Regions from separate parts of the Homo sapiens genome. Here region 2 is linked to region 1. The links come from fine-mapping of genetic effects on gene expression. A gene starts in region 1. The other region holds a variant in brackets. All regions are shown on one strand. Distances are from middle to middle.

Region 1 (5,000 bases):
CAACAAAATCATCAATTTTGAAAACAAATTTACCAAGGGAATGGTACAAATTAGAAATTAACATTTGAAAACCTAATGCCTGCCAATAAGCACTCAATATTTATTGCTTAAATGAAGAAGCATACCACACTGTTCTTAAAGAACAAAAAACAGAAGCTACTGAATTTTTAAAATCAGCCTGCTATGGATTAAGGGTCGCATTACAAAATATCCTATTTAGTAGACCTACAGTAAAATAGTATAAGTAGTAAAAACTTATTATTTCAAGGGCCGGAAGCGATAGCTCACGCCTGTAATCCCAGCACTTTGGGAGGCCGAAGCGAGTGGATCACGAGGTCAGGAGTTCGAGACCAGCCTGACCAACATGGTGAAACCCCATCTCTACTAAAAATACAAAAATTAGCCGGGCGTGCTGGCGGGCGCCTGTAATCCCAGCTACTCAGGAGGCTGAGACAGGAGAATCCCTTGAATCCGGGAGGCGGAGGCTGCAGTGAGCCGAGATCGTGCCATTGCACTCCAGCCTGGGCCATAGAGCAAGACTTAGTCTCAAAAAAAAAACAACTTAATATTTCATTATAATGATTCATTCAGAAAATATTGACTGAGCACTACCACCTCTAATTCTCAAGTACAAGGTAGGAAAGGATGAATGGAAAATCAAAGTAGTGCTGGACGATGAGTCCTCTCTTCCAATGCCTTTTCTAGTTATTAACATGGATATATGAAAATAAAGTACCTAAAAAGCTTATTAAAGAATAATTTGCATTCAAGGCATAGAGATGGTGTTAAGTTATACCTAAAACCGTAAGTGAAAGATAAAACACAAGCAAAGTTGAGACCGTGATAAAAAAAACTGTTCGATGCACTTTGTGTAAATCCAATTCTTAATGCACTAGAAACCACAATACTCGTTTTCCAAACTTTTTAAAAAACTTTGGATTTTAAAAATAGTGCTTTGAGTAGGAAAAAAAGATGATTTGGTTTGCCATTTGCAACTTTCCCACCCTGTTTTAAAGTAAAACTTGCACGTGAAAAAAAATGGCAACATTTGTAGGAGTGTAGGAGTTAATATTTTCTACATCAGGCCTATTTTTCAGGACATGGGAGGAAAAATTATCTGACTAGAGTATTACCATAAAATTACTTAAAGCCCAAAACTTCAGCAACGAGTTTCAAATTTAAAATGCAGAGTAATAAAATGAACTACACAAGACTCACTCAAATTTCATCCTTAATAAGCATTTCACATGGCTGACACTGATCTAGGAATTCATACTGAACTCAGCACACTGAAACCATTTCTGAGACCCAAATCAGGAAGCACTGGAAAGCTGATCCATCTCTCCATTCTGTCTCCAACTTCACTTACTCTCCTGTCTACCTAATGCTTCTGAGGAAGCGCTGTCTTCTGAATGATAAACCAACCTGCGCTAAGTTCTCAGGGATCGCCAAGCATTAATGATTCTGATAAAAGGTTTTTCTCGAGAGCCAATTTAATGGATGACAGAAACTGGATCTCAAACCGACAGAGTAACCAGACTACACAGAAGGGAAGAATGATTAGGCAGGTGAAATAGCGGATCGTCAGCTTAATCAAAAAACCAAACCTCCTAGCCCCTCAAAGCAAAGCTCACACCGAGAATGTAACATTTTGCCAGGTGCAGTATCTTCCTTGCTATTTCTTGCTCCTGGCTTTCCTTGTAACTGGGGGGCTGTTACATCCAAAATATTTCTCCTGTAACTAAATCAACTTTCGCAGAAAGCACGACGAATCGACCATTATCTGTTGACAGCGTGAACACTCAGTCCCAATAGTTTTAAATTCTTTATAAGATGACACGACTCGATTCCGATTTTTCAACAAAAATCTACAAGGACATCTTCGCCAAGGTTTAAGACACGCGGCGTTCTAAACACTTCTTGAAAAAGTGTAAGTGAAAGAAAATGCGCGGTAAAATTTCGCAATTACCGACACAGGGCAACCTGCGTGGAAACGTTTCTTTCTCCCCATCCTTCACCGCTCTCGGGAACGGAAAGAAAGCTGGAAGGACGAGCAGCGACCAGGCTGCCCGGTCGGGGGAGGCTGGCGGCGGCGTCCTCGGCCCACACCCCCGCGCCGGGCGCCCTCGCCGCGGAGTTGGCCTATTTACGCCCAGCCCGCACCTGCCTTCTCGCGTCCCGGCGGCGGCAAGACAGGCGCCACGCCCGAGGCACACACGGCTCCCCCTGGCAGGTCGACCAGGGTGCGAGGCCAACACGGTCCCGGGGTCTCCCCGGCAGCTCCTCTCCCGCGCCGGCCGAACTTGCCCCCGCGCCCGGGAGCCGGCCCCTCCTCCCAGGCCCTCCTTACCTGGTCATGGCCCAAAGCGAAGTCCGCGGCGGTGACGCCGGCAAGTCCAACCCGAATGAGTGTGGGTGCGACAGGTGAGTCCCTGCCCCGAGCCCGCCGGGTCCCCGGCCCCAGGAAAATCTGGTCGGCTCGCCCTCCCCGCGGGGGAGTGACCATCCGCTCCCAAGAGCGGGAACCCCGACCGCCGCTCGCTCCCGTCTTGCACCAACACCAACTACATCCCGGGAGCGGCGCCCATCTGCGCCCGCCCCGGGAGAGCCAGGAGCGCAACAAGCAGCGGCCCCGCTCGCCGAACGCCTGAACCGCTAGGGTCTTTAGCACTCCGCCACCGAGGGGAACTTGGCGCGTTTTCCTCAGTCTCAGGACCCCCGTGTTTTAGCCTCCGCCCGCGCCAGCGCTGCGATTGAACGTGGCGTCCTTTGAAATTGCCGGTTCCAGTCTCCACGCTGCAGAGACACGAAAGGCAGGAGCCGTCTCGCGACGGCCACTCGCCCCTGGCACGCACGGGCTCCGGAGCCAGCTGGGACTGTAGTTCCCCAAAAGCCTAACGGGTTCCACAGTTTCAAACAACGCAGGCACAGAGCCGGGCAGCTCGTGCGGGTCCTCGCTGAGGGCGCGCGCGAGGTGCTAGCGGCCTGGCTGGCGGGCTCGAGCCTCACACCCTTTTTTTAACCATTCGTGCGCGCGAGTTGAGGGAAAAGCGTACGGGTCGGGAGACGGGACAGAGAGCAGACGGGATGGGCCACCACCTCGAGAAGGAGCCCAAATTCACCAATCCATGATGAACAATCCCCAAAACCGCGCCTCCCACCGCCCGGGGGAAGCCAATCAGAAGTACCTAGACCAAAGCCAATTAGATGGGCGGGAGCAGCAAGCCCATCTAATAGCAAAAAAGAAGAAAGGTGGGCTCCAGCCAATCATTGTTCGACATACGGAGTGTTCCTCAGGCGCGGTGCCCCTCCTTCCGCTCTCATTGGCGCTCGAGTGCGCGCTTTCGCTGCCGACTGTTAAAATCTTGTTTGGCGTTTTGTTAATCCTCGACGGTGGGACGCCGCGGAGGGTGCGGCTTCCGGAGCGAGGCCCTCGCGGTAAGCCCCGCCTCCGTTCGTGCGTACGCGCCCGGGCGGGGTTACCAAGAGAGCAGCTTCGGAAAATGGCTGCCCGGCTGGACGCCGCCGCGCTTGGGCTTTCAGTTCGGAGTCGCGGCCACACTAGGCCTAGGGCCATCCAATGAGACAAGGCGCTGCCACGGATAACAATACATGCTCAGGCGAATGCTGTAGAGCTGAGGCCCGGTCCTCAGCCCCTGCTCGCCTCATTTTCGCCTGTTTACCTCTTCCCTTTCTCGGCCGCAGGAGGAAACGAAAGAACAGTTTCAGGCCCAGCTCCGGCCGCGGGAGCTTCCCAGGGTTCCCGCGCGAGCCCTCCCAAAGGGTTCAGGAGCGGCAGGCAGGCCTCATCTGGTTGTGTGCTTCCTTTTGTGTTTGTGTGCCTGCTTTGGTGAGGTGACCTCAGCTCAAGTGCTGCAGTTAAGCAGGATACGTTCAGCCCAAATCCATTTAATCAAGTATTTTTAAGGTGCCTACTATGTGCCAGGCATTTTTCAAGGCGCGAGGGATGTAAAGGCATTCCCTGTCATAAAGGAGCATTACATTCTGGAGAGGGAGATACAAGTGACGCTAAGATAAGTGATAGATACGATAGCCTGGAAAGACCTCTTTGAGTTGACATTTGAGCAGAGCTGAATGAAAAAGCTTGGAGGAATCTGAGGGAAGAATGGTGCGGGCAGAGAGAACAGCAAGTTACAAACGTCCTGAAGCTTAATGTGGTTGGTGTTTTGAAAAGAAGCAAGGAGGCCAGGGCGCTTAGAGCGCAGTCAATTTGGGAAATAAGATGGGAGGAGATGAGATGAGTGAGAAAGGCAGGACCCTGGGTAAGCCGAGTAAGGAGATGGGAGTCGTTAGATGATTCTGAGCTGGGGAGTGGCGGGATTACACGTTGACCTTCAAGAGTACAAGCAGGGTCGGGCGTGGTGGCTCACGCTTGTAATCCCAGCACGTTGGGAGGCCAAGGCGGGCTGATCTCTTGAGGTCGGGAATTCGAGACCAGCCTGACCAACATGGAGAAACCCCGTCCCTACTAAAAATACAAAATTAGCCGGGCGTGGTGGCGCAGGCCTGTAATCCCAGCTACTCCGGAGGCTGAGGCAGGAGAATCGCTTGAACCCAGGAGGCGGAGGTTGCGGTGAGCCGAGATCGCCTCACTGCACTCCAGCCTGGGCAACCAGAGCAAAACTCTGTCTCAAAAAAAGAAAAGTACCAGCGGAAAGGTCAGCCAAGATGCTGGTTCAATAAGCCAAGGAATAAATTATGGTAGTCTGGAATAAGATGGTGGGATGTTGAAAACTGGTAGGGTTCAAGATATATTTTGAGCACAGCCAACGAGCTCTACTGATGGATTGGCTGTATGATAATGTAAGAAAAAACAGGTCGGGTAGCCAGGGCCGGTGGACCGCTTGAACCCAGGAGTTCAAGATCAGCCTGGGCAACATGGCAAGACCCATCGCTACAAAAAACTCCAAAAATTGGCCGTGCGTGGTGGCACGTGCCTGTAGTCCCAGCCACTCGGGAGGATGAGGGAGGAGGATCCC
Region 2 (5,000 bases), 56 kb before region 1:
CAGACTTGGACAGTGCAGACAAAGCTTTATGATGAAACGTTCCTACTTATTAATCAAACAATAATATGCCTTAAAAACTAAAGTTTCTACAAACTACCTTTTAGTAAAATCAGAAATATAGGAGAGAATTTTCCTTTTGTATTCTTGTATTTCCCATATCCCTCTGTTTTATTTCTACTTACAGTTCTGCTTGTTTCCAGGTGAAAGAACAAAAATAAACATAGTCTGCTGAGGAATTTATATAAAGTTTACTACCCTTCACTTACCATATCCCCACATACCTATACTGTACAGAATCATATCAGTATCCTACAACTTGTTTTGAAATCTTTAGATATTTATCTGAAATATCTCTGAAACTAATTTGGTGATTATGGATGAATGACAATTCAAGAATGTTTTTCATATAATTCTCTGCTGCAGGTCCAGGATCTGGTTTTCAATCTCCATATGATTCTTTCTGATACTGTGAAAATGAAGGAACACCAGGAGGATCCTGAAATGTTGATTGATCTAATGTACAGGTAGCATTTATTTGATTCATTTATGCTTTGTATAAGGGACTTAGTAAGACATACAGTAAGCATTAGATGAAAAAAATAAACACACAAAAATGATTTGTGATTTTTCTTTATTTACATTCTTTATTGTTTTTATTTTTATTTTTTACTTTTTTGTAGAGATGGGGTTTTACCATATTGCCCAGGCTGGTCTTGAACTCCTGGGCTCAAGAGATCTGCCTGTCTTGGCCTCCCAAAGTTCTGGGATTACAGACGTGAGCCACCGCACCTGGCCTTGAGTGATTTTTCTAATGGTAGATTGAAAGTCCAAATGCACTTTTTCCAGGTGGCATCTTTGGATCTTCTGTGTCTCTTCTTTTAAGAACAATGCAAATGTACTTATTGATTATCAAAAACGAGGATTTTTTTAAGTATTCATAACACACATTTAACACCTTGGTGTCCTGGGCCCCAGAGTTCCTTTGAAGGCCCATACCAATATTTTCAGTGTAAAACTCAGTCTTTTCAGAAGAAAATACAGTATATGAATGTTTTACGATAACATTAATTACCTGATTTTCAATACAGTTATGACTGAAGAATGATATTTCTAAGGGCACATTTTGAAAACTCCATAAATCGTATTGTATTAACACCTTAATAGATACAATAGTAAAACTTAAGAATTTTTCTCTGTCATATGACCCTCTGTTCCTGCAGTTTTGGGGTTCATTAAAAGCACAAATAAAACAATTTAATCTCTTTGAAATAAAGTAATAAAAGTACCTTTTAGAAGTTTTCTTTTTCCCTTGTGTATAAAACTTCTCTATGTTTCTGTAATGAACACATAAATTTCCATACTTTTTCCCTTAACTGGTTATTTTCTTAAAAGTCAGAATTTAATATGGCGTATTTCTTTTTTGCCCCTCCTGCCCCCCCCACCAACTGATATTATCCATTCCATAGGCCACAGTTATTTCTCTAGGCCTGCATAGCGACATTTTCATACTACTTTAAAACTAAGTAGGTTGTGCACAGTATCAAAAACCTTTCTAGGTAAACTCTGAGCGAGCTATCTAAACTCCCTCCCAGCTTGGGAAGCACATACTAATGGAGAAGAATTTCTGTTCTAATTAGAATTGCCAAGGGTTACCAGACCTCTCCAGATCTGCGATTGACCTGGTTGCAGAACATGGCAGGCAAGCACTCAGAACGAAGCAATCATGCTGAAGCTGCACAGTGTCTAGTCCACTCAGCAGCACTTGTTGCTGAATATTTGAGCATGCTGGAGGACCGGAAATATCTTCCTGTGGGATGTGTAACATTTCAGGTAGGAATCTTCCAGATGTACATTAAATCAAGGTATATCTTTTTTTGGTTTTAGCTTTTCTCACTGGTGTTTAGATTTTTTTAGTTTATAAGGAAAGCTTAAAGACTTAAGCCAATGCTTCACAAGGTGAATTAACATTTCACAGTGATTGTCATTAATACATTTTTAAGGAGTACTTCTTGTTGATTCTCTTTCCACAGTTTCTTACCTCTGAATTATCAGCACTATGCTTATTTATTCTCTTTGTCTTTACTGCCTTGTAATCCGTTACATACTTTAACATCTATGGAAATGTATTACTGATAATCAGAATTCAGTAGAAATTCTTAATTGGCTTTTACTTCACATAGCAGATATACCAACATTCTCTATTCCCTACATAAAATATTAGATTATTTTATGACTAATACCATGACTCACAGATGAGTTTGCCCTCTAGTAGGGTACATAATTCTGACCCACTAGTTGAATTCTCTGCTTACCAAGAGTCAGTTATGCTTTGCTTTTCTTCAAAACCTGTTAATAGTAGGTTTGAGATATTATAAAATTTAGTTAAATGTTATATCTTCTGATGAAATCAGAATGCAAAAAGAAAGTTATCGTTTCTCGGAAAACAAAGTTGAATGTTTTACAAAGACTCAGGAAAGGTGAATCTCCAAAACAATTGCTGTTGAATTAACTGTGGGCCAGACAAATAGATTGGGGGAGGGGAAACTCCTAAAATTCTAGAATAATTTGATAATCTTTTAAGTTTTCACTCAAAAGAAACCAAAACTTGAAATCTTTAAAAAGAGTGTTGCCTTATCGGTATTTACCCAAAAGAGATTCCGTGGAAATCTGATCTGGAAACCCATACACACAAAGAAAAGGCCTTAGATCTACTTCAAAAGTTGATGAATGAGTGTACATCTACTGTAAATGTTTAGGTTAAAATAAAATAGGGTATGTATGTATCATTTCTTTTTTAGAAATAATGGCTGATTCCAATCTCATTGAATAAGAGGGCTTTTATTATACCTGACTTTTTTCATTAACTCCGTGTACATTAGATAAGTCAAGAGACCATTTTTGTACCCTTTTTCCTTTACAGAGAGTTTTGAAAAGATCAATTAAATAAATAAGAAAGACTATTGATGTCTCCTTAGATGTCTTATGTTATATTACAATTTCCTTTAGCCCATGATTTTTCTTAATTTTCTTTCATACAACTTTTTATTAAGAGAAAAGTTATCTAGCAATGGTGTTTTCATTTTATTATCATCTTCAAAATACAGAAAGTTTTTAGAG[A/G]TTTATCTTTTACCTTTATATCACTCTCCTTTTTTTAACCTAACCTGATAGTTACAGTTCATCTTCAGTTATTTCTTCTTATACATTTTTATGCTAGAAAATTCTGTTTCAAAAACCTTTTCAATATATTTTTTCCCTAGAATATTTCATCTAATGTTTTAGAAGAATCTGCGGTCTCAGATGATGTGGTATCTCCAGATGAAGAAGGTATCTGCTCTGGAAAATACTTTACTGAGTCAGGACTTGTGGGATTACTGGAACAAGCAGCTGCTTCCTTCTCTATGGTAGATGACTCTTGTTAATTCTTTTCCCACAGTTTCATACCTCTAATTATCAATGACATGTGTATTTATTCTCTCTGGCTTATGACCCTACTTTTCTTTAAAGATAATTTATTCTGGACCCAGTATGGTGGCTCATGCCTGTAATCTCAGCACTTTGAGAGGCTAAGACGGGAGGATTGCTTGAATCCAGGAGTTCAAGACCAGCATGGGGAACATAGTGAGATACCGTCTCTACAAAAAATTAAAAATTCACCAGGCATGGTGGCTCATGCCTGTGGTCCCAGCTACTTGAGAGGCTGAGGTGGGAGGATTGCTTGAGCCCAAGAGGTTGAGGCTGCAGTGAGCCATGATTATGCTGCTGCACTCCAGCCTGGACAACAGAGTAAAACCCTGTCTCCAAAAAAAGAAAAAAAAATTGTTTTTTATTTCAAGTCCCCTAAAAACTATCTAGGAAAAGATTTTCTTTCTAGATTCATTATTGGCTTACTCCTTTTCATCTTAATAATCTGTCACTTCCCCCAGTGTTCCAGTGGTTTGGCTCACTGCGGCCTCAAACTCCTGGGCTCAAGATATCTTCCCACCTCAGCCTCCTGGGTAGCTGGGAATACAGGGGCACAGGGGCACACCATCACACCTGGCTAATTGTTGTATTTTTTGTAGGGATGGGGTTTCACTTTGTTGCCCAAGATAGTCTCAAACTCCTGACCTCAAGTTATATTCCCCTCATCAGCCACCCAAAGTGTTAGAATTACAGGCATGAGCTACTGTGCCCAGACCCACCAGTGTTTTTCGTTTGCTTGTTTATTAACCAGCATGTGATTTGTAGCAGATTTTTTTTGGTTAATAAAACTGTTACTGCCAAACATTTTCTAAAACCTTTAAGTTAAAAAACGTAGCAAAACAAAACAGAAAGTCTCTGAGTGATATAAGTTCCTAGTTGGTAGACTGACAGGGCTCTATAAATAGATCTTGTCTATTGGATGAAATGGAGAATCTTTTTTCCAGTATGATGGGCATTGCCCTGGTGTCCAAGAAAGTTATGACCACTCATTCCATTGGTTGCATAGTAATCCTCATTAGGTAGTTATTGGAGGCCTGGGCCTTACTCTTTAGTTTTATGAACTGCATCCTGAATCCTTTACCTGACTATGCTGTCATGCTATAACCCCAATCTTGTTCCCTTCCATCCGTATGTGAAGAATTAAAGCAGTCAGATGAAACCCAGATGGGATGTTTATTGGAGAAAGAAAAGATAGTTAGCTGAATTCATGCTTACCTTCTTAAACCATGTTGATAGGATCAGTTACTTCCTCTGACTTTTCTGCTAAATGTTTAGTGTACCAGCACCGAGGTTTAGGACACGCTGAGGTTCATGTTAGGGTAAGAGAGAAGCTTGAGGTAATATGCAATGCTGCCCTCTTTCCCCATTTCTACTGCTGTTGGGAATTGATTCGTTCTTCACCAGGCCTTATCCCTATCCTGCAATATATTGATAAAGGGTAGATTTAGAAGGCATACTGCCAAAGTTCAAATCCTGGCTCTGCCATTTAGTAGTTGTCTTACTTCAGGCACAAATTATTTAACCTGTTGGTGCCTCAC

Direction of the effects. Alleles are on the strand shown, and positions count from the first base shown. SD is a standard deviation of normalised expression in the study named.
For the expression in tibial artery of the gene that starts at base 2,702 in region 1, allele G in region 2 goes with a higher level than allele A (small effect, 0.16 SD a copy in GTEx).

The links. PIP is the estimated chance that this variant, and not a neighbour inherited with it, causes the effect.
Region 2: its variant is the best candidate, but not a certain one, in a credible set for the expression of USP1 in tibial artery (GTEx, PIP 0.80).

What each region holds. Positions count from the first base shown.
Region 1 is chr1:62,434,751-62,439,750 of GRCh38, reverse strand. It overlaps USP1 (ubiquitin specific peptidase 1), which reads right to left and starts at 2,702. Exons shown (of 9, transcript NM_003368.5): 1 at 2,351-2,702. RefSeq lists a silencer at 2,046-2,105 and enhancers at 2,806-2,875, 2,700-3,467, 3,436-3,785, 3,468-4,235.
Region 2 is chr1:62,491,105-62,496,104 of GRCh38, reverse strand. It overlaps DOCK7 (dedicator of cytokinesis 7), which reads left to right. Exons shown (of 50, transcript NM_001367561.1): 39 at 424-524; 40 at 1,638-1,830; 41 at 3,258-3,401. Among named protein-coding and RNA genes, the nearest start is that of USP1, 57 kb to the right of the region's middle. The variant A/G (reference allele first, on the strand shown) is at 3,118.